Regions from separate parts of the Homo sapiens genome. Here region 2 is linked to region 1. The links come from fine-mapping of genetic effects on gene expression. A gene starts in region 1. The other region holds a variant in brackets. All regions are shown on one strand. Distances are between the middles of the regions.

What was found. PIP is the estimated chance that this variant, and not a neighbour inherited with it, causes the effect.
Region 2: its variant is fine-mapped to the expression of TOP2B in whole blood (TOPMed, PIP above 0.99).

The regions. Positions count from the first base shown.
Region 1 is chr3:25,658,519-25,670,234 of GRCh38, forward strand. TOP2B (DNA topoisomerase II beta) reads right to left here and starts at 6,389. Exons shown (of 36, transcript NM_001330700.2): 1 at 5,711-6,389. The coding sequence starts at 5,779. It overlaps MIR4442 (microRNA 4442), which reads right to left and starts at 6,421; the gene lies at 6,355-6,421. RefSeq lists enhancers at 5,039-5,168, 6,126-6,689 and silencers at 5,456-5,644, 5,599-5,958.
Region 2 is chr3:25,610,061-25,621,776 of GRCh38, forward strand. TOP2B (DNA topoisomerase II beta) reads right to left here. Exons shown (of 36, transcript NM_001330700.2): 22 at 10,622-10,756; 23 at 9,802-10,002; 24 at 8,594-8,789; 25 at 8,358-8,449; 26 at 5,371-5,526; 27 at 5,145-5,228; 28 at 2,455-2,649. Among named protein-coding and RNA genes, the nearest start is that of TOP2B, 49 kb to the right of the region's middle. The variant A/G (reference allele first, on the strand shown) is at 5,377.

The sequences.
Region 1 (11,716 bases):
ATATTCTTTTTCATTTATAAATATGATGATAACATCATTGACTTTTTCTGAATTTCAAGTCAGCTGCCAAATTAAACAAAGCATTTAGGGAAAATTTAAAATTATAACAAAAATACCAAAATAACTATATAGACTATATATTTTAAATATTAACCTATCTTATGGCACTTTTGCAATATTGCTAATGCCTAATAAAAAAACAGATTTAATACTAATCCAAGATTTGATCTTTTTCAAGAACATTTCTCAGTCTTCAGAAGAAAATGGAAAACATTCCAGTAAAACTTCCTATTTTTCAGAACGACTATACACCAAGATCATTCTGCAAAACAAAACAAAAGATTCTTCAATGGACAGAATTGTCACCTGAAATATAGCAATTTGGCAGAAGCACCCAGTTTGTTTTTCTGAGGGAGAATGAATTGCTGACAAACAGGGTAAAGGAGATGGTTTGCCAGTTGGTACTAAAAAAGAACTGAGCCACTCATTCACATAATCAACACAGAAAGCTCACCATCACCAGGCCAACAAGAGTGGAAGTGGGGGCTGGCAGCCTAGCAACGAGCCCCTTCTTTTACCTTCTTCTGTACAATCCCCTCAGACTTAACACCAACCTTTTATAATGTCTCCTCTCTCTTTTCTCCCTCAAGGCTGCCATCCCATGATGTTCATTCTAACCATATTTCACCTATATGTAAATGGAGAGGCCATGTTATCTACCCACCATTAATGAAGCAAAAAGCAACAAACTGTCCCCTGTCTATGCTCCTTCAGAAATACCCTTCTAAACAAAGGGGCAAGGAAGAGATAAGAGATACTTAAGACAGTAACAAATGCTTAGACTTCTGCTATGAAAATAGGCTTTCTCTATAATAAAGGGAATGAAAATACTTATCACTGGATTAAAAAAGAAGGGAGAATGTATGTGTGAACCCATCTGGGAGCTACTATGTGCCAAGCACTACGATAATCTTAATTAATTCTTATATAGTATCTCCATGAAATAGACACTGTTATAATTCCCTTTGTACAGATGAGATAACTAAGGTTGGGATAAGTGTTTTCCCAAAGCTAACAAAACTAGTACTTGACAAAGGTGAATTATGAAACTAGATGATCTGATTTCACAGCCCATACTCTTAGCATTATGCTATACTAAGTACACATATTCTGAAAAGGAAATATACTCCTTAGCTTTTTGTATGAAAGTAAAAGGTTAGTAGAAAAAGACAGGTATATCCCAGATGTCTCCTTATTCTGTCTTATCAGAGTATAAAAGATGAGTTGTTTTGTCTTTCAATGTTTTTAAAGTTGAAGGCTGTGTAAATGTTAAGAACACTGAGTCTGGTTTAAATTCCACCTGTGCCTTAACCATGTGCCTAAGAATTTGTTACCTAATCTCTAAACCCGTTTCCTTCTCTGCAAATAGGAATAACTATAGCTACTTCAACTTTTCGTTAAAATGGGGTTCTATACGTGTTAATACTTTTAAAAATTCAAGAAGTTTATTTTTTAAAGTGTACTCAGTAAAATGCAATTGTTGCCACCACCTAACCAACAAACCTGGGATTACAGGTGAACATACTTCGATTCAGAAAAATTAAGTTTATTAAAAACGTGCCTAAATACTGCTATATCATGTACTTGAGAATGTATCTAAAAAACACTGCTACTTAAACTCTTGTCCTACTAATGACAGAAGACTTTTTAGGAAGTCAGCATGTCAATTATCCAATTTTTAAATAACTGAGACTGGATTACGTATCCAGTTCTTTGTTTAACACTCTGAAGGACATAAACAAGGAAAATACATGCTCTCTAACTTCAGAAATTTGTAATATTAAGGCAAAGTTATCATGCATGAAAGTTACATAAAAAATAAAGACTTCTGTTTTATGATTCATGAGAGTAACAAACATTCAATGAAAGAAAAAGATGAGTATCAACTGGAAAATAATAATGTGACAAGGCTCTGAGCTAGCCCTGAAGAACAGTTAAGATTTAGACTAGTAAAGAGAAGTGAAAAAGTAATTCCAGATGGAAGGCAAATATGTAAAGACAAAGTGACAAAAACAAGCCTAACTTGTGTAGGGGACAGTGAAGAGATAAATCTAACTATGGAGACTATAATAAATAAATTTCATTGGAAAGGGCACATAGTTTATGAAAGTCTGGCTCAGCAATTTAGACTCGCAACAGTAAACCACTAAAGCAAGGTTCTTAAAATAAATCTTTAAACAATATTTAAATACATAGTCATGTTTAATTAGAGATATTCACACTCCAAAAATATGTTATATATTTCAAAAAATGTGACTTTTGAGAAAACTACAATGTTATTTGTGGTTATACAGTTTTTCAAAAAGAGACTTTACTGTTAGAGATAAATACTGAAATATTTACAGAGAAAGTGATAAAATTCTAGGATTTGCTCTGCTTCAAAAGAATGAGAAGGGATAAAGTGGGTGGTCTTAGGTTGATTTTTTTTTTTTTTTTTTTGAGACGGAGTTTCACTCTTGATGCCCAGGCTGGAGTGCAATGGCGTGATCTCGGCTCACCGCAACCTCCGCCTCCAAGGTTCAAGCGATTCTCCTGCCTCAGCCTCCCGAGTAGCTGGGATTACAAGCATGCGCCACCACCCCAGCTAATTTTGTATTTTTAGTAGAGATGGGGTTTCTCCATGTTGGTCAGGCTGGTCATGAACTCCTGACCTCAGGTGATCCGCCTGCCTTGGCCTCCCAAAGTTCTGGGATTACAGGCGTGAGCCACCGCACCCGGCAGGTTGATAATTATTGAAGCTTAAGGCTAAATAGAGGGAAGCTTGTTATACTACTCTGGTTACCACTTTTTGAGATGCTTAACATTTTCCATTAAAAATTTTTTTTAATCTACCAAGTTAGAATATTGTTGGGAAAAAGATTAAGTCATATAACTGTATTCTAGTATTTCCACAAATGTCTTTGTTACAATCACTTATGATACAAGACTGACAGAATGAACCAGACTATTACTATCTACTAATCAAAGCTCTACAAAGAATTAATTCAAGAAACCCTGCTGCCTTAAGAGAAGCCTTTGTAACTGCTATACATTTTAAATCAAAATAGCTTTGCCATGTTTATATTTTTCACTTTTTTTAATTATAAAAAATTCTGGTTGAGATACTCCTACAAATCAAACACAAACCAAATGAATTATTAAAATAAGTTAATGCCAGTCCTAAAACCACTTGGCTTTGTAGTTTCAGATATTGAAAGGCAAATTTTCATGCAATGACATTAACAACACATGCTGGCATGCATCCCAACAGTAGTTAATATCAGCAACACATGGCATACAACTCCTCACCCAGAAGAAAGAAATCAGGGGCTAATTCTATTTTTATTTCTTTCTGTTACCACAAGCAGGTGGCAACATAACACTAGCTTCAATAAAGCAGACGAAGTTACCTTTCTCAAAACAGATGACCACTGCAATAAAGCCCCAACTCGTGCAAAGGAAAAATTAATTTGCTTTTACCCCAGCTAAAAGATATTTTATGTAAAAGCAACTGCAATCTATTATTTGAGTGTGCATTTCTTGAAGTTCACCAATAATAACAAACATCATTAAGCCCAGCACTGTGCTACACACGTTATCTCATTTCATTCTCAATGCAACCTTATTTGACAGATAAAAAAACAGGCTTAGAAAGGTTAGGTTCCTTGGGAAAAGTCCAACTAAATGTGTTGGAGAGACAGTATCTGAACCTACATCAGCCTGACGTCAAAGCCCATAACTACCTCACTATATTGCCTCCCATAAAATCAAACCAGTCTATATGATCAATGATGTATATTATGGACATAAAGATGCTCATATAACCTTAGAGTAAGCATCAACTCTTAAAGAAGACTTACAGGAGTGATTATCTTTTTAATAAACTTCTAATTCCATAAGATATACTCTATAAATAAAACACTAAGTGATCTTCACTTCTCTTTATTTTACTGCATTTCCCATATTTTCCATAATCTGCTTTATAATGAAAATTCCTTTAATCAATAAGTCAATTTCAGTTTCAAATGGATTTTTCTATCTTGAATGAGATGCTCCAAGTTTTGCTAAATTAGCAATGAGTTTCCTATGGAGCTTGAAAGAAATAAATTGTCATTTAATTATCTACAAAATTATATAACAGTTAATTAAAGTACTGCTATCAAATGTTAAAGCCAACAATCCACTACGGAGCAAAATGTTTACCATTATAGAACCAGAGGTCTTCAGAGGAAACACCGATCAGGCCTCAACACTTCCAAATAGTGAATGAGAACTTACAATACCATTTGGCTGTCTAAGTCAATTTTCCGATGTCTGATTTTAGTGACAGGGGTAAAAGCCATTAATTCTGAAAGTCATTATTTTGCATGTATGTGTCCATCTCCTCCTTCTTCCTCTCACATACCCTCTACTGCAAGTCCACATGGACCACTAACTTAGTATCTGACATTTTCTCTCCTGGCCCTAGTCCCTTCATACTTTCATTCTACATAATCGGAGTAATATACAACATTCAAAGAATTTCAACAATAAGAGCATGGCAAGTTATTTTGCAATGTACCCTGGCACGCAAACATAAGTGATTAAAATGTTTTGCTGCTGTCAGTAGCACCCTTTTTATAAGAAGCAGTTGTCAATATAGCACAAATTGCTATTCAACTCACCCAAACCTCACCCAAACAAAGAGAAAACGAACTAAGTAACAAAAATGCCTATATGAAAGCTCCCTTGAGGTATTTAAAACAGGGACGGGGGAACAGACCGTCAAAAGTCCAGAAAAATGTAACACTTTTTACTTTTCTCCGAAATACCTAGGTTTTCTGTATAGGAAATGACCCTGGTCTGAACTCTACGCTGAGCAAGTGAAATGCCGGCGAATTATCGATCTGTCGTGGGAATCCAGTCTCCCTTCCTCCTTCCGCTGCAGTTACTTCTACTTCCCAGCAAGAACTGAGCGTCGAAATCCTTTAACTTCAGGACTAAGCACTTCAGTCACCTCTCCAGGACATCCATTCAGCCCTCACCCCGTTACACCTGCGATGCTGACGTAGACAAGCACTTCTTTTAATAATCTCACCCTGACAGAGGGACGACCTACAGTATTAACTGCTGTGAAAGTCATCCCCAATGCGCTCTCAATTGAGCGCATTGAATGAGGCTTTCCAAATTGAAGTGCAAGTTGCTGTAGAAATCCCAATGCATTCTTCTTTGAGATTAAAGCCCCAGAAAGAGCTGCATTTAGAATACACACACACACACACCCCTTTTCCCAGGGTTTTCTTGAACTACATTTGGAGAAAATGCTGCCCCACACAGACACACTTGCATTATCGCCATCCCCACCATTTCAGGTTCGGCTGCCCCGGAAGAGTCTGGTTAAAAAGAAAAGAGAGGAAGCGGGGGCTGTATGTTACGTTCGCGGTTTTGTCCCCCCAAAGTTTCAAGTACACATTACGCTCTGGCAGTCAGGACTTCCAGAGACGTACAGAGAAAGAAAGAAAGAAAAGGCGCGGGGAGCGGGCTGGAGGATTCTGCAAGCACAGGCCCCTATGGAGCGCCCGTTCGGGGGACGGGATTTCCCTCCCTTTCCCCTCCCCCGCCCGTTCGGAATTCCGCCCCCGCCGCGGGCCCGGAACAATGCAGCCGCCCGTCCCGGGGACCAGCCACTTACCACCCAGGTCAGTGCCCCGTTGCCGCCGCCCACGCCGGCTCCCGCGCCGCAGCCACCCGACTTGGCCATGGCGAGTGCCTCCAGCTCACAGGCCCTGAGGCCGCAGCCGCCGCTCCCGCCTCCCTGCGGGCCGCTGGGCCCCGCCGCTCCGCACCCACCGCTCCACTCGCCGCACTCCTAGCCGCGCCGACCCCCGCGCCCCATCGCGAAGATCCGGAGCGGACGTCCAGCCGAGCCCGCTGAGGAGGCCGCGCCGCCGGCTGCCCTCAAACTCGAGGCGCGGCGTCCGCGTCGCCCGGGCCTAGCGCGGCGGCTGAGGAGAAAGCAGGGAGCGACCGGCGGCGGCCGAGCGGCGGCGTTGCCTTCTCGCCCGCCCGCGGGCGCCGCTGCAGGCCGGGCTGAAGCCCGGGCGTGCGAGCCGCGAGGGCGGCCGGGGAGCCCGAGGCGCTCGGACGTGGCGAGGACGCAGAGGTGCCTTGTCCTTCTCACACTCCGCGAAGGCCAGCCACTCGAGTCGCCAGAGTAGTCGTCCCGGTCGCCGCCGCTGCTTCAAAGGCAGCCTTAGCCTCGCTGCAGCCCCGATTTCCTCACACACACACACCGAGAGGGACAATAAACAGAGCCGCCGCCGCCGCCGCCACGGTCACCTCCCTCTTGTCCGGCATAACACCGCACACACACATTTGCACACCGGGGAGAGAGGGAGGGCGCGGCGGCCGCCCCCGCTGTCAGTCAGCGCCATGCTGTCCAATCCGGGCCTTGTCGCCACAGCCTCTCGGCCAATCCCAAAATTCCAAGCCCCCTGGAGGGGCGGGACCCGAGGGGGGAAACGTCATTGCGGGTAGCAACCGAAAGGAAGACTTGGGGTTTTTGTTTGTGTGTGTGTCTGTGGGTTTTCCATTTGAAGGGAGAGCAGGGGCTGCTTCAAGGGTCAATTGAGGGCGGCAAAGGGAAAGGGTCGAATTGGCCTCGGGTCGATTGTAATCCTCCAAGCGTGCTGTTTACTCTGAGACCTAACCGGGAATCCGAAGCGTTTGCCTGGGGCCTCTAAGGATGAGGATGGGGGCGGGGTGGGGATGGGGGTGGCAGGAAGAAGCCGGGGGCCGTCCCAAAGGGAAATTATTTTAAAAGAGCGGTTGTAAACCGCAGGCAAGACGTTGTAGACCACTGGTGCAAGGAGGCCCCGTGACCCGGCCTCCCCAAGGGCCTAAGTGGACGCTGCTGTCGAAAAAAATCATCTCAGACCTTCTCCATCTCCTTCTTCCGTCTCCTCCCCTCACCCCAAAAGAGCATATGGTCAGTTTCAAGAAAACTACATATGAAAAGCTTAAATGATAAGGGACACACAGAGAATGTTCTAGGGAAAGAATGCAGGGTGGGTTGAGTGTTCTATTTCTACTCTTTGTTGACCTTTCTTCTCTGAACAATGCAGAGATGTCACTGTCACTTTTCTCATCTGTCCAGAACTGTGCCCCCTGCCTCTAAGAGGGCATGCTTAATTTTTAAAACTGTTTTCAGTGGAATTTTCAAATGCACAGTAAGGAATAATTTCATTCACATTAAAGCTTTCTAAGAATGAAAATTACCAATACAGCAACATCACAGTCTTTGGCAGATGGAAGATGGCTTTACTTCTTCCTGTTTTTCAGTGTAATTCCACTCAAGTATTTATTGGGCGCACACTCTGCCACGCTGTGCCAGGCTCTGCGATGGGTTCAAAGTAAAAACAAGGCCCCTGATTTCAAACCATTTATAACCTGGCTTGTGAGACAGACTAAAAGGGAGCCAACGATCACCAAAATGAGTACTTGAAGGCATGAAGTGCCACCAAAGAGTTGTGATGAAAGCTTTTTATAAAGATGAAAACAGTATTACTGTTTTTTGAAGAGGTGTTTTTGTGAACTTCCAACTGTGCATTTCCTCTCAAGGGAAAACAAAAATGTCTCAGGTCACATCTTTAAACTGCATTCTGAGTCTAGAGGTGGAGAACTCTGAAACATGGAAATAATTTAAACATAGTTTTTTTAATTAGCTCTCTGATGGCCATGTAACTTTGCCATACTAGGGACTTCAGAACAGTGAAGCCTTTCTTTACCTTGAACTTGGGGTGCAAACTTTTCTGAACCTGACCAAGTATCCATAGCCTTGTTATTTAACTTCCCTGAGCCTCAGTTTAGTGCTTGTTAAAATGATCTTGTGTTCTTACTGTGAGTTTGCATCTCCAAGTACACATGTATTTTGTTTGAAAAGGGGTAATTTTAAAGGCAATGAGTTTTTTTTATGAAGATGTACTAGGTAGAAGCTAAGCTATAAAATACATAGCTGTCTCCTTTTTTAAACTTAAGTTGTCAAAGCTCTTTATCTTCCGTTTTTGTTGTTGTTTTTAGAGACAGAGTCTTGCTCTGTCACCCAGGCTGGAGTACAGTGGCATGATCTCGGCTCACTGCACCCTCCACCTCCCAGGTTCAAGCAATTCTCCTGCCTCAGCCTCCCAGGTAGCTGGGATTACAGGCACCGGCCACCATGCCTGGCTAATTTTTTTTACTTTTACTAGAGACGGGGTTTTCACCATGTTGGCCACCCTGGTCTCGAACTCCTGACCTCAAGTGAGCCGCCCATCTTGGCCTCCCAAAATGCTGGGATTACAGGCATGAGCCACCGCACCCAGCCTAGGTTCAGATTTTGAAATGAATAAAACAATATATTCAAAACTCAAATAGATTAATAAAAATAATGTTCTTTTCACTTGCCTCATATGTGAGGCATTGAGTCCTTTTGTCTTCTCAGTATGAAAAAGCCTTTTAATAAGTGTTACTAGTTTTAAGAAAATACTGACTTACCCAGAAGAATTGCAAATAAGAATTGCTGAATATACATGAAAATCAACATTTTTAAAGCAGAGATTTGTGATGAGTGGAAGACGGAATCTAGATTAAAAGTATCTCAGCTTCTAAAGAATTGTCCTTTTTAACTGTGCAGCAGACTTAGCATATCTTTATGATAAAATTGATTGTACGCAACTTGAGCATAGCTTTCTCTTCTGGGGTAATGTGAAGTAATTTTCAATTAGGGGTGGATCACCTGAGGTCAGGAGTTCAAGACCAGCCTGACGAACATCATGAAACCCCTTCTCTACTAAAAATACAAAAATTAGCCAGGCGTGGTGACCTGTGCCTATAATTCCAGCTACTGGGGAGGCAGACATAGGAGAATCACTTGAACCTGGGAGGCAGAGGTTGCAGTGAGCCGAGATCGCACCACTGCACTCTAGCCTTAGCGACAGAGCGAGACTCCATCTCAAAAAAAAAAAAAAAAAAGCTTCTATATCAGGTTTGTCTAGTTTTAGATACTACTTTGTATGTATATATTACATATAATGACTTAATTTCTACCCCACAGCAAGCACTGACCAAAAGGAAAAACTAGAAATTAGTCATTTCTATAAACTGTATAAAGGTCTTTATTTAATCAAGATTTCTGAGTAGCTTCCATAGGAGCTTATCCTAACTACTTCAGAATTTCTATTTTTAGATCTTATATTTCCTTATTGTAGCAATGAAAAAAAAATTAAATGCCTACTGTGTTAGGTACTCAGGACCTGGGAATTTAAAAAGGTGATGAAGACGCATTTTCTGCCTTAAGTTCACCCTTGAATTATAGTTTCAAGCTAATCATTTAATTGAAAAGCAATTTTATATTTATTCATTTGCTGTTTAATAAACAATTTACCTCGCTTTGGGAGACCAAGGCAGGCAGATCACCTGAGGTCAGGAGTTCAAGACTAGCCTTGCCAAGATGGCAAAACCGCATCTCTACTAAAAATACAAAAATTAGCTGGGCATGTGCCTGTAATCCCAGCTACTCGGGAGGCTGAGGCAGGAGAATCGCTTGAACCCGGAAGGCGGAGGTTGCAGTGCACCAAGACTGCACCACTGCACTCCAACCCGGGCAACAGAGCAAGACTCCATCTCAAAAATATATATATACATAAAAAATAAACAATTTACCTGATGAGCCACACCTATCATCACACTTTATACACAGTAGGTAATTTAATCAGTAAGTAAATTATCCAAGAAAATAGCAACTCAAAACCATACTTCTAGGTATCTGCCAAAGTTTCAATAGTTTCCATTTAAATGTTGTGTATCATTCCAACACTGAGATTCAGTTGGGAGGAGGAGGACAAATCTTTAACCTCGGGAGCATTTAAAGAAGCTAACATTTGAATTCAAAATTCAATGTCTATAATTTCACCTCTCCCTTCTCATTGCATTAATTTTGTGGATCCTTACGATATACAAGGTTGCTGGACTAAGAAAAATTTTTAATGTCTGGCCTATGGTAGACTCAGTAAGTGATTGCCTAGTTAATGACTATTGTATGTTTAAATGTAATTTAGTTTGTTATAGTTCTTTAGAAGTGAGCTCAAGGAAGAAAAGTTACTATCAATGTGACTTTTTGGTTTTCAGTATTTCTCTAGTAAATATTATAGTACATTATTAACTCTGCTTCTTCTAACTATTTAATTGCTACAGTTTATAAGTATATTTTTACTTTTAAAATGATATTTAAGCACCAAAAGTAACAAGTGTTTGCGGATGGCTGAAGATATCAATGATCATATTCCTGAGTATTATTACCACTAGGAAGACAGACAGCAGGTAAAGTTCTTCAATTTCTACCTGCAATAATTACAGGGTACAGTATTTGTTTTGATTTTTTGTTTTGCAGGAGTTTGTTTAGATTGGTTTTGGTCAAATAAGCTACACTGATCTTCTGGTGACATTCTAATTATACAGACAGAAGGGACACTTTCACTTATATGATATAGCTCAATAATATTCAGGGTTCTCAGTAATTCAGGGTTCTCAATAATAATTCAGGGTTTTCATACAACGTGGAGAATAAAATTAGCATGTGTCTTAAGAAAGTTGCTCTTGGCCTTTGTAAAAATGTCTAATAATTGGATGGACTTTCAAAGATGCATCTTGTTTTGAGAAAATTCTGCTTTGGGGGACATTAGATGTTATCATGCACCTGCCCTTCACCAACAAGATACACAATCTATCATGTGTATTACTAAGTTGTATTTGAAGTTTCTGGTTGCCCACAGTCATCTGATATTGTTACTTCATAGGTTTATAAGACTCACATCTTAAAAAATGAGACAGCAGTGGCTTTCCCAACTCGACTGTTTTCATTTCAGAAGAGTAGGGAATGGCCGGGCACAGTGGCACTTGTCTGTAATTCTAGCATTTTGGGAGGAACAAAACAAAAAAGGTACCTGCAAGTTATGTAAGGTGGTAATTAAAAATCAAAAATTCGAAAAGATACCATCTTTTAGTATGCCAATTAATAACAGAAAATAGCAAATTATTTCTGTTTCTTAAGAATTAAGAGGTCAGCCCAGATGTCATATATAACTAGTATCTTTATCTATCAGCTTTCCTCTTTGAGATGATTGTCAAAATGTGGAAAGATCCAGAAGGAGGCTGAGAAATGCAGACTCTTTAAGGAATATATTTCCATTTTAAATGTTGTTTGGGAAAAGTAAAAGAGTAAGACTAGCCTATTCAATAAAGGGTATACCACACAGTGCTAGCTTGTCAAAGAGAGTGTCTGGCATACAGTTGGTGTTCAATAAATAATTGCTTTACAAAAGGATATGAGGTGTTATCAAGAAGCCTCCCTCAGAAAAATTTCATGCACCATCCATGGTGGTGCTGAAACTTGGCCATTTGAGATTCATTCTTCAGCATCCTTGAGTCTTTTGTGTTTTCAAGTATTATTGGTTGACTACCAGAGAGGGTAAAATACCTTAAACTTTAATCTGCTAACTTTATCGGTTAACAGATGAAGAATTGGTTGAAGCATTGTGTCTCTTTAGTAGTGAGAAACAGGATGGTGTGAGGAGGGAAGGAAAAAAAGAAATTATTGGTACCAAAACAATTGAGGGAGAGGGGAGATGGAGAACAAAAGCATCAAACTGTGTGAAACTGAGTG
Region 2 (11,716 bases), 48 kb before region 1:
TACCATTAAAAAATCCTGTAACCCCAGCTACTCAGGAGGCTGAGGCAGGAGAATTGCTTGAATCTGAGAGGCGGAGATTGCGGTGAGCCTCTGGCCTGGGAAACAAAAGCGAAACTCTGTCTCAAAAAAAAAAAAAATCTTCAAATTATTGAAGGAAAATAAGTAACATGTGTCTTGCACTGCTAGGCACTGTAAGGTAGACCCCAACCCTAAGACCATGGGGTAAAAAAACAAAAACAAAAAACACAGAGGCACACAACAAGGATGAGTCATTACAATACAAATAACAAATATAGAGGCTGGTACAGCCATGGCCCAAGGGGAGAAGTGAGAAACTCTGCTCAAGGCAGGGTCAAAAAAGTCTCCATGGAGAAGTACCTTTTCTGACTGAGTTCTAAAGGAAACACATAGGTTTGCCAGGTGGGAATTAAGGAGGGAAGGGCATCCCAGGCAGAAGGCACAAAGCCATCTAACAGGAATTAAATGTTTAAAGAATTAGGTTTTTAAATGTAATAGTCTGCTAGAACTCAAGGAAAAGTGAGAACAAAGTAGCCAGGAGAAGAAACACACAGAGGCATACAGGTGCTAACACTGTATACCAAGAATTTGTGCATAGTCAGTGGGGAGTCACTGAAGATTTTTAAGCCTAACAATCAGACTGACTTTTTAGAATTTTCATTCTAGTAGTAAAATATAGAACTTAAAGGAATGAAGTAGAAAAGGGGAGAAATCATGATTAAATGACTAGAAACAGAGAGTTAAGAGGACCACTTTAAAGTATCTCAGAGAAAACACAAAATTCTAAGGCAATGTCAAATGGGGACCAAGATAAGGGGGTGGATTTTGGAATTACTTAGTAGGCAGTCAATAGGACTTAGTTACTGATTAAATGACAAAACTCCCAGGTTTTTGGCTTATATCATTGATGGCTGATAGTGTCATTAACTGGGATAAGGCAAAGAACAGATTTTGAAATCAGGATAATGAATCCAGTTTCAGACATGCTGAGTTTGATGGGCTTCAAGCATTCAAGTGGCTATGAGCTTGGCACTCCTGAAAGCATTATAGCTTAGGAACACAGATTTAGGGGCCATCAGTATGAATGGAATAAGCTCTGGGCATAGATAAGGTTACTTGAGGGGACCATATAAGGTAGAGAAAAGAATGCTGAGAAATGAATCTGACAAACGCCAACTGAAAAGAAACCATCTTCCGAGGGAGACAGGCAAGAGTATCTGGGTAAATGAACCTGTGTGCCGTGGGGAGCCAAGTAAGAGGAAAGTAGTAGAGACCTGAGTTTATCAGAACAGAAGAGAAAGGCTACTCTGGTGTCAAAATGCACCTACGCTTCAAATATTAGCTCTGCACAGAGAACTCTCCAATCTCTAACTCTAGCTCTTTAGGCTCATTTTCCAAGCTCTAGTAAGAATGAGGCTATATTCCCACCTACTTGTTGGACACATCTAAACGTATACTTTCTGGATTGTAAAAATCAACCTGTCCAAAAACATTAGCCTCTCTAAGACCAACATGCACCCTGTTTCCTCAGCTCTGAACATTTTTTCTGATGTTTCCTTCTTCCGGCTAACTCTGGTCAATCCTGCTTGAGGTTAGGTCAACGCCATTTTTTTTTTTAATCCTCAATAGCACCTATCAGTGCCAATGACACAGGATGTGCTTGGTAGTTTAAGGACAAACACAAGTAAATAGTAAAAGATGACAGAGTACTTTGTAAGCCAAACAGACCCTTTCCCACTCTAAGTCTTCTCTAATGGATTATGATGTAGCACTAAAGTTTATACTTTAAAGTTGATATACTTATGGTTGGGTTTTTGGAGGTTTTTGTTTTGTTTTGTTTTGGCTTCCAAGATTTTTATTTTTATTTATTTATTTTTTTTTGAGATGGAGTCTCACTCTTGTCAACCAGGCTGGAGTGCAGTGGCACAATCTCGGCTCACTGCAAGCTCCGCCTCCCGGGTTCGCACCATTCTCCTGCCTCAGCCTCCCAAGTAGCTGTGATACAGGCGCCCACCACCACGCCCAGCTAATTTTTTGTATTTTTTAGTAGAGACGGGGTTTCACCATGTTTGCCAGGATGGTCTTGACCTCCTGACCTCATGATCCGCCCGCCTCAGCCTCCCAAAGTGCTGGGATTACAGGCGTGAGCCACCGTGCCCGGCCGGCTTCCAAGATTTTAACTTAGAAGGCAGCTGAGTGGAGTGTTTCTATTTCTCATTTTAAAAGCTGAATTAAGTAGCTCTTTACAATATGTGATCCTTTACCAATATGTTTTCCTTCTATAGATCAACTGCTGTCATAGAAGGATTTCCTATTACCATTGAAATATATTTTGAATAAAACAAAGCATGATTTAAACACGCATTAAAATTTTTTAAATTATACATATATTTCATTATAGAAATGAGTCTATCAATGACAAGAGGTATGTCATACCTTCTTCTTCTTCAGCAACTTTTTGCTGGCATCTGCCTTCATAGCTGTAATTTCAGGAATTATTCTTCTGCCATAAGGTGAGGGCATTGTCTCTTCCAACTGGAGTTTCTTCACCTTAGGTTTGCCAACTTTACCTTTAATTGCTTTTCCAGACATTCCAGCCAGAACATCTTCTCGTTCTTGAGATTCCACTTTCTAAAGTATAATCATAAGGCAGAAGGAACATAAACAACTTCTTAGAAAAGATAATCACTACTTCATAAAATACTGAAACAAATGTTATTCACTCAGTAAAGAATAAAGCTTTCCTTTTAACTTATCTAATTCAAGATTAAATAATGGAAAAAAAATAAAGAATTCTAAATCAGAAGACCTGGATTGTAATCCCAATTCATCTAACTAGTTTCCCATTTGTAATACGAGGGGGCAATAGTGACTAAATGACCTGAGAAGTCTCTGCCAATTCTTGGATCCCGTGATATATTATGGAATCAAGACCTCTGATAACCTAGTATCATCAAAATCCTAGCAAATCATATACAAAGGCAGTTCTGCTAATAAGTATGAAGTTATTTTTTTCTATTGCTTTAGTCGTAATAGAAAATATGAAAAAAAACCTCCTAAATGTAAATTAAAGTCAGAAAGTATGAGAAGTTAAAAGTGCCAATATAATTAGATTGAACTCAGGCAGGTCTATGTAATGATAAATTAGGATATAATCATGATTAATATCCTAGATTTTGCATTTACCAGAATTATTCCTTAAAATAAGCTTTGAAAGGCACAAGGAAAAAATGACATTTCTTTAGAGATTTTTTTAAAAGATCTTTGTAGCACAACAGTTTAATAGAAATTACCCAAGCTTTGAAATCAGATAGTTCTGGATTTCAACTGCACTTCCACTTACTAGTTATGTATCCTCAGGAAATAACAGAGGCCAGTTGCAGTGGCTCACACCTGTAATCCCAGCACTTTGTGAGGCTGAGGTAGGTGGATCACTTGAGCCCAGGAGTTTGACACCAGCCTAGGCAACATAACAAAACCTCATCTCTACACAAAAATGCAAAAATTAGCCAGATGTGGTGGCACACATGTCCCAGCTACTCAGGAGACTAAGGTAGGAGGACTGCTTGAGCCCAAGTGGTTGAGGCTGCAATGAGCCATGATTGTACCACTGCACTCCAGCCTGGGTGACAGAGCAAGACCATGTCTCAAAAAAAAAAAACAAAAAAGCCAGATAATTTATAGAGCATCCACCATGTGCTAGGCATTTAAAAAATCCTGTGATCCCCATTTTATAGATGAGGAAAGTGGGTGTCTGAGAAGATGAGTAATTCTATAATGATATAATTCCTAAGAAAGTGACTTAACCTCTCCAAGCTTCAGGATCCTTATCTGTATAATACAGGTTAATGATAACCTCATTCATTTGAAGTTGTGGTGAGGGTCACTCTAAGCATTACATAGAAGGCTGTGCCAGTGTACAATAGATATTCAATTAATGTTATCATTAGACTTTAAATGATACAGAGAGACATGAAATTTAAGTCTAAATCTTTTTAAATGTTAAAAATAAATACATCCAGAATTTAAATAAGTTGTTTGGACCTATTTCATTAATTGTCAAATAATAAAATAAGATGATAAATTAAAAGTGAAAGAGTATTTTTTGCTAGGGTTGTTTTGAATGACGACTTTTCAATAGTGAGGAAATGTACAGGCATAACCACAAAAGTTTCCTGTGTTTCACTATATTAGTGACCAAATTTAAAGCAATATCAGGATATCAATAATATTAGGAATAATTTTTCTTTTAATATATGATGGCTTCATTTTTAATGAATAATTTTTAAATAAATTATAACTCAGCAGGAAACAATGTGCAAAAAAACTAATTAATGAACAATATACGGAAAGCACAAAAAAAGGAAGACTCACATTGCAGCACTTGAAAGATCGTTGAGGGAGCCTAGAAAAATAGCACTAAAAAATTCTAAATTCTTTTAGGCAGCTAATTTACCACACTTGTTCTTAAGAGTTCTAATTCTGACTTAGACCACTGAAGTAAAAGTAGAGCATGTAGACAATAAATCAACAAAGCAACTTTAAAAAAAAAAAGTAGTATGAGTAATAAATGGTATTTTACATTTTGCTACTCAAAAATCAGGTATTCATAATGCTACCATTAATTCCAATATTTTAATTGGGCAATTTTAGAAAAGGTGTGCTTTTTATATCTCTACATTTTTTTTATTTTTTAAATTAGAATTCTACTTGGAAAAAACTATGTTATAACAATCAAATATTGAAATGTCTGTTATAAATGTAGAGACTATCATTCTACTCCTAAAATCAAAGTACTTACATTCAATTATACACACATATTAGCCTTACCTCTTTCCAGGAAAACATTAAACTGAATCAATTATTTAATCTAAAACTCAGTTAAAAATTTTTAACTAATTGAAAGCAGATTTAATTTATTCTAAATTTCAATTTCATAGCATTTAAATTCCTCCATACAAGAAGTTCTTTATAACTTCACATAACTAGAAGCTTAAGCCTAACTCAACTTATAAACATATTAACCTTCACAGAGTTAAAGAAAACTTTAAGATCACTTAAAAGAATTTCATTCTTGTTCATAAACATGACTTTTCCAAATAAATTTTAATAGAGACTTAACCTACATCCAGTTCTTCAACAAATGCCGCTAAATCCTCTTTCCAAAGATCTGAAGGAGATTTTCTTTTAAGATCATTGACCTCTCGCCCCTATAATAAAAAAGTACAGTTTAAACATTCAATAGTTTTAAAACATATGAAGGATAAATCAAAATACTTATTTTTGGAAAAAGAAAAAGATACAGATAACACTGAAATAGTTTCAAACTATTTAACCCACAAAAGTTCATACTTTTGC[A/G]TCTCTCTGTTTAATCAGTTCTTCAACTTTTTCTTTAGTAAGAGACCACAGAGACATATTTAAAATATAATTAAAATCTGGGCCTGAAGGAGTTCCTGAATCGGAGGAACTATCATCATGCTGGTTTTGTGTTTCATCCTCTTCTGCTGCCTGTAAAAAATAACAAACTGTATATTAAAGTCTTGTATAGTATCAAATTAATGTTGAATTTTATTGAATAATTAGTTTAAAATTCTACAAGTGCTACACTATAAATGCTACATCTTCAGGATGGTGGGGTTATTTTGGATTACCTATAAAAATATATTTCCTTATAAAAAGTTTAAAATTTTCTAAAGACGCACAATAAGATCTTCAGAAGGAATGGTATACACTATCCCTATTTATCCAGGAATCTGATGAAAAATTAACTGATTTCCTCAGGTACTCAGTAACAAAATGAGAGGATACCACATTTTAAAGTTAAGAGAGTAGAATTAATGTTTTATCACTGCATCTTGTCAGATTTTTATACTGGTGAGTGAATGAACAATCTGAAATACAAAATAAATACCAGTTATGAAAATTATTTTACAGTTATAATAAATATGTTAAGGTACATTCACTCGCTGAGGGTGAATTCTTAATAAAAACTTCTCTAAAGCCAGAATATTCATGTCAGGACTCAGAGAAAGTCCACTTAAGAATTTAAGAGTTGGTGAGTTAGAGTAAGAATTTCGTCAGGGTTTTGCTGAAATTTTATTCATCAGGCCCTTGTCTATAGAAACAGCTGCAACAAAAAAATTATTTTGTGCTAATATTAAATTTCAAAATACAATGAATTTAATAAAAGTTATTTTAGGTGATATCACCTTTAAATTTTTTAAAATAACAATAGCCATTAAATAAAATTTTATCTAAGTTGTTTAATTTAAAATGACTGAGTTAACCATGACACTCCATAAAGCAAAAAGTTTACTTTTGGTAACCAAAAGAGGAAAAAAAAAAAAAAAGCTTTATAATTAAAATTTGTAAGCAAAACAATGTATATACACAAAGTACAGTTTACGTGTACTTCAGAAGTAAGATAAAAATTAAAACTGCAAAGCAAGATGCTTCATTATATAAACAAAAACTATAAATTTGATTAAGCCACATTAGCCAAATACGGAATGCTATTGTTGAGTTGATAGATGATTAATAAGTACCTAGATAACTTACAATAAATAATTCTACACTTTTGAAAAATTCTTCATGAAACAGCTTGTTTCTATGGAGTATTCAGGTTGTTAGACAACTATAAAAATATCACTAGGATACAACAAAATCCTGTTTAGACCCACATTTAGTGGGTCTAGTCTATTAGATCTAGGTTTTGACTACACCCAAAGTATTGTTAAGAAGTGTTCTATGAATATGTGTATCTATCACCGTTAACATAAATATGACTAAGAACACTTCCAGAAATTAAAAAAAAAAATAAACTTTGCAAGTTCTAATGACAAAATTCCATTATGCTTTACAAAAAACTTTAATCTTCTAATTAGCTACTTTATAATTCTCTTTTCTCCAACTCTGTATAATAGGACACTCTTGTAAGAGCAGTTCCTTTTGTTACCTGAACTCCCCAAAATGTACACATGGCCAAGATGCTGAAAAAATTCTGATGGTGGTAATGCAATAACTGAAATCAAGCTAGGCTTTACCCATAAATTCTACTTCCACCAGAAGGACATTCTGACACTGTAGAAATCTTTATCTTTTAAGACTAAGCATTAAAAATTCATCAGCTTACTAGTTACTTTTTTTAAAAAAAAACATATAGTTTAAACCAACGGTGATACAGAAAGGCAAAAGGCAAGTGTTGTAGAAACCATAATTTGGGGTTCAATAAAACACATTAAGAGGAAAACAAAGGGCTTCAATCATCTTAACTCTGAATGCGCCCATCTTGTCCTACCGAATTTTCTTCAAATAATGAATAAGCCTATTATCTTAATATGTAATTGCTATTCTATATAACTTAGTCTAATTTTACTCACTTTAATATATGACTTTTATTGACTTCAAACTGAAAAATGTAAGCAAAAGCAATATTTCAATGTAGTTTGATAAAAAATACAAAAACATTATGATTGAGAACTCAAGTACAGGGAAGTTTAAAGGTTCAAGTTATGTCACACAATTATAACTATGTTTTAAAGATGTTAATGTTATGGAATCATATATGCACAAAATAATCTAATACCCAAAAAATTAATCATTCAACTTTTCTTCCTCTTCTGTAATAAATTTCTGTTCTCAATCACAATGTTGTACTGTTGCTTAAATTTTTCTTTTAGTTATACAAAACATCAAAAAGCTAATTGAGGGGACTCTCAAAGCTTCAATATCCCATTCATTTAACTATTATTACTATTTTGTGATCTGCAATGGGCAACTTACTTAATAAAACATCAGACTTTTAATCTGAAGTTCCAGGGTTTAAATCTCTGGCTAAAAATCTAAGCATGAGGCAGAGCTTGGTGTTTGATAAATACTGTCTATAATAATTAACATTTTGTCTCTTGTCTTCCCAGTATTAACCAAAACCAGATCAAGTGAGTGGTGACTGGATGCCATACTGTGAACATAGGCTGATTCTGGGTGCAACCAGTCTGATTCCCAGGTAATATACATGTACCTCACAAAAACCACCACCACAACACCTTTTAATGGCAGACTCAGGAAAAAAGGTCAAGGAGACTGAGCTACCTTCTCACACCTGGAGTCATTTCTCCAGGCTCTGGTTGAGTCACACTGGCCAAGTGCTTTGTGGTGGGTGTGTACTATAAATTCCTGTACTTTATCTGTTCTGTGGATAAACAGAAGACTTTAGTCTCTAAATAGACAACTCAGCACCTTTAGTAGTACTAAATTTAAAATTTAGGGGTTGAATTTTTGTTTGTTTTGGAAGTTGCTTTTAAAAGCTTCTCTGAATGTCTTTTTCTGCAAATGATTACCTTTTCTTGTGCTTCTTTCCAGGCTTTCACTGGGTCAGATTCATAACCTCTCTGGACTAACATTTGAATCAAATCTTTCTTTGACCTATTCTCTATGTGAGGGAAAAATAAAGTTAGGATCAAGATAAGAGATTCAATTTGTATTTGCTTATATTCTACTGATAAAAATGTCTTCTATTAATAAAGTTTTTTTTCCATTTTAACTAATGTTCAAATTTTTAAAGGTTGTATCTTACCTATAGTAATTTTCCCTTGTATCTTCTCTAAAATGAAACGGGCTTGATTGTTAAGCTTTGTAGATTCTGCTCCCAACATTCCCACAAGCCACTCCTTACGTAAACCGTAATAACTTAATCGTAAATCAAAGAATTCTTTCAGAATGTCTTGCACAGTTTCATATTTCTTCAGACATCCCATATGATCAAAAAGTACCTAAGCAAAACACATATACTTTGCAGATCATATAGATCTGTACTGGTATTTTAACTTATATAACATCTACAATACTTAAAATAACCATAATATATAACCATAATGCATGTGTGTGAACACAGACTACCCCTAAAAACCATTAAACAGAACTAAGACTATTAAGCACATTTCTGTAAATATTTCTTTGGTGACTGCAAGCCAATAAATTCAATTCTCACAACAAAAGTATTTAGGAATAATATTGAAAGACAAAAATAGGCCTTAAAAAAAGGGCTCTTAAAGTAACCATAAAACCACCTACAAAAATGATTTTTCCCCAAACTGAAAACATACATATTCTATTGCTAAGTTTAAAAATGTTCAAGTTTTTCCTCCCCCATATATTCTGTGTATACGCATTTGTCCCCTTTCTCTCGCTTTCACATTTACTTGTGCTATAATCCAGTCACCCAAACTCCTCTCTATCCTTTTTCTTTCTTCCATCAGCCTTTCTCAGCGGATTATGGCACTTTTTCTCAGCCACTGTACTACTGCTGAACTTTTTTTACTTTTTTAGATCTAAAAGCTAATTTGGAATGGAACTTGAATCACACACTTAAAGTTTCTACCTTCCTCCCCAGTTGTATAAATAAAGATAAATGTGCAAGTTTAATAAAGCAGATTAGAGTTATGAGTACTCTACAGTTAAAATGCTAATAGAGATGGCCATAAAGTACACAAAGGCCCTGCAATAACCACTCTCATAACTTTTAGTCAATGTGTGTGAAGATGTGTGTATCCTGTGTTTTCAAGCCCAGATGCATAAACACAGAGTTGAGAATAAGGGTAGTGGACAATACTAGAAGAAAGAAATGTGCCCCTAGAATCTTCAGCAAATCTGCAGGATGGGAAAAAAAAAAAAAAAAAAATGCCTTCAGGCTTACTATAGCCACTCCCATCATGAAACCAATTATAATAATCCGACTTATACCATGCAAGAAAGATTAAATTAACAGTAAATCTAATAAATTACCATGGAATTACAAGTAAGAGTAGTTTGAAGTTTAAAAACTTTATGCAGTCCAGCAGCTTCTGCTTGTGCTAGTTTCTCTTCAGTCATTTTCACCACAAATTTCACAGTTGTGTCAGTATGATATTCTTTATAATCAGAAATTAATGCTGGTGTTTTATCTGTTCCATTTAGCATAGGTTCTAAAACCTGTTCTTTATATACCTATAAAGATTTAAAAATTAGTGATTCTTTTCATGACACACTCTCATGTTCTCATACTACAAGTCATACAGTCTTGAAAATTCTCAACTCTCATGGGGAATTAAAAAGGAAACCTCAATCTCTATCATCTCCTATCCAATCAGTATAGAAGGCAATACACAGGGATCTCGGTGGTGGGAAAAGACATAAGAAGTAATGGTGCTGACCCACTCATACTCTAAAGGGCAAGATAAAGGCTGAGTATGAAAAGGATGACATCAACTGGAACTGTCAAGAGGTGACATGCATACTTTTAGATTTGTAAAGCTGATGCTGACATGAATTTACTGACCATATTTACAAGAATTAAAAACACTGTCATATTCTACTCCTTTTATTTTAAATAAATACAAAGATAATAGTCTATAAAAGCCTTACCTAACATAAGTCATACTACGCTACTTAGATATAAATACTATTTAAATATTCAAAGCACAAATTCAACTGAAGGGTAAAAGAAGGTACAGGAATTTTTTAACACTACGCACGCTTAGGACCAACAACGGTGGAATCATCCTTACCAGAAAAAATTGCTTAATACACTGCCCTTCCCTCAGGCAGATCACATATTTACACTGACCTGTGTCCAAGTTCTAACTGGAAGCTCTGTAATTTCTACTGTGTTTCTGTCCACTACAAATATTTCACCACTGACTGCATACTGGTTTTGACCAAGTTCTTGAATCGTGCCTTTAAAGTTTTTGTAGTTTGGAAGCTGTAGAGAAAAAGGTAAATAGCATTGACTTCTCTCTTGAGTACCAGTACCATGAGTCTATGGTCTAACATTGACAGATTAACACAACTGAAACAGAATTTCTCATCCTCAATTGTCCCTTTCCAACTGATCAATTAAGCTTGAATTCATAGCTTCTGTTCATACAACCTGAACATCCTCCAATCTCAAAATGTTAGTATCATCTTTCCTAGTCTTCCTAGAACAGTACTTTCTTTCAGCCTACTTCCCCTACACCTACTTCTCTCCTAGATCAATATCCTTTAAATTCAAACTCCTTGGGCCTTACATTGAAAGCATTTCATAGTCTGGACCCAATCTGGCTTTCAATTTTTTCTCTAATGATTTGTCTTACAAAACCACTACTCTTCTCCCATATTTTGTTTGACTATTTTGAATATTCTCACTTTCACTCTATCCACAAGTCCTGACACATATTCAGGCCCAACCCCATTCCATTCATCATTCATCTACATAAATCTTACTCATCCTTCCCAACTGAATTACAAGTCCTCTCTCCCTCTTCTAAGTTTTTATTTGTTTTGAGACAGGGTCTCCACTTTGTCACCCAGGCTGGAGTGCCGTGGCACGATATCAGCTCACTGCAGCCTCAACCACCTGGGCTCAAAGGATCCTCCCACCTCAGCCTCCCAAGTAGCTGGGGTTACAGATGCGTGCCACCATGTCCAGCTAATTTTTGTATTTTTGTAGAGACAGGGTTTTGCCATGTTGCCCAGGCTGGTCTTCAACTCCTGAGCTAGTGATCTGCCCAGCTCAGCCTCCCAAAGTGCTGGGATTATAGACATGAGTCACTGCACCTGGCCTACTCTAAAATTCTTATTCGTTATTATCATTAAGAAATCGAGTATATAGGCCGGGCACAGTGGCTCATGCCTGTAATCCCAGCACTTTGGGAGGCCAAAGCAGGCGGATCACTTGAGG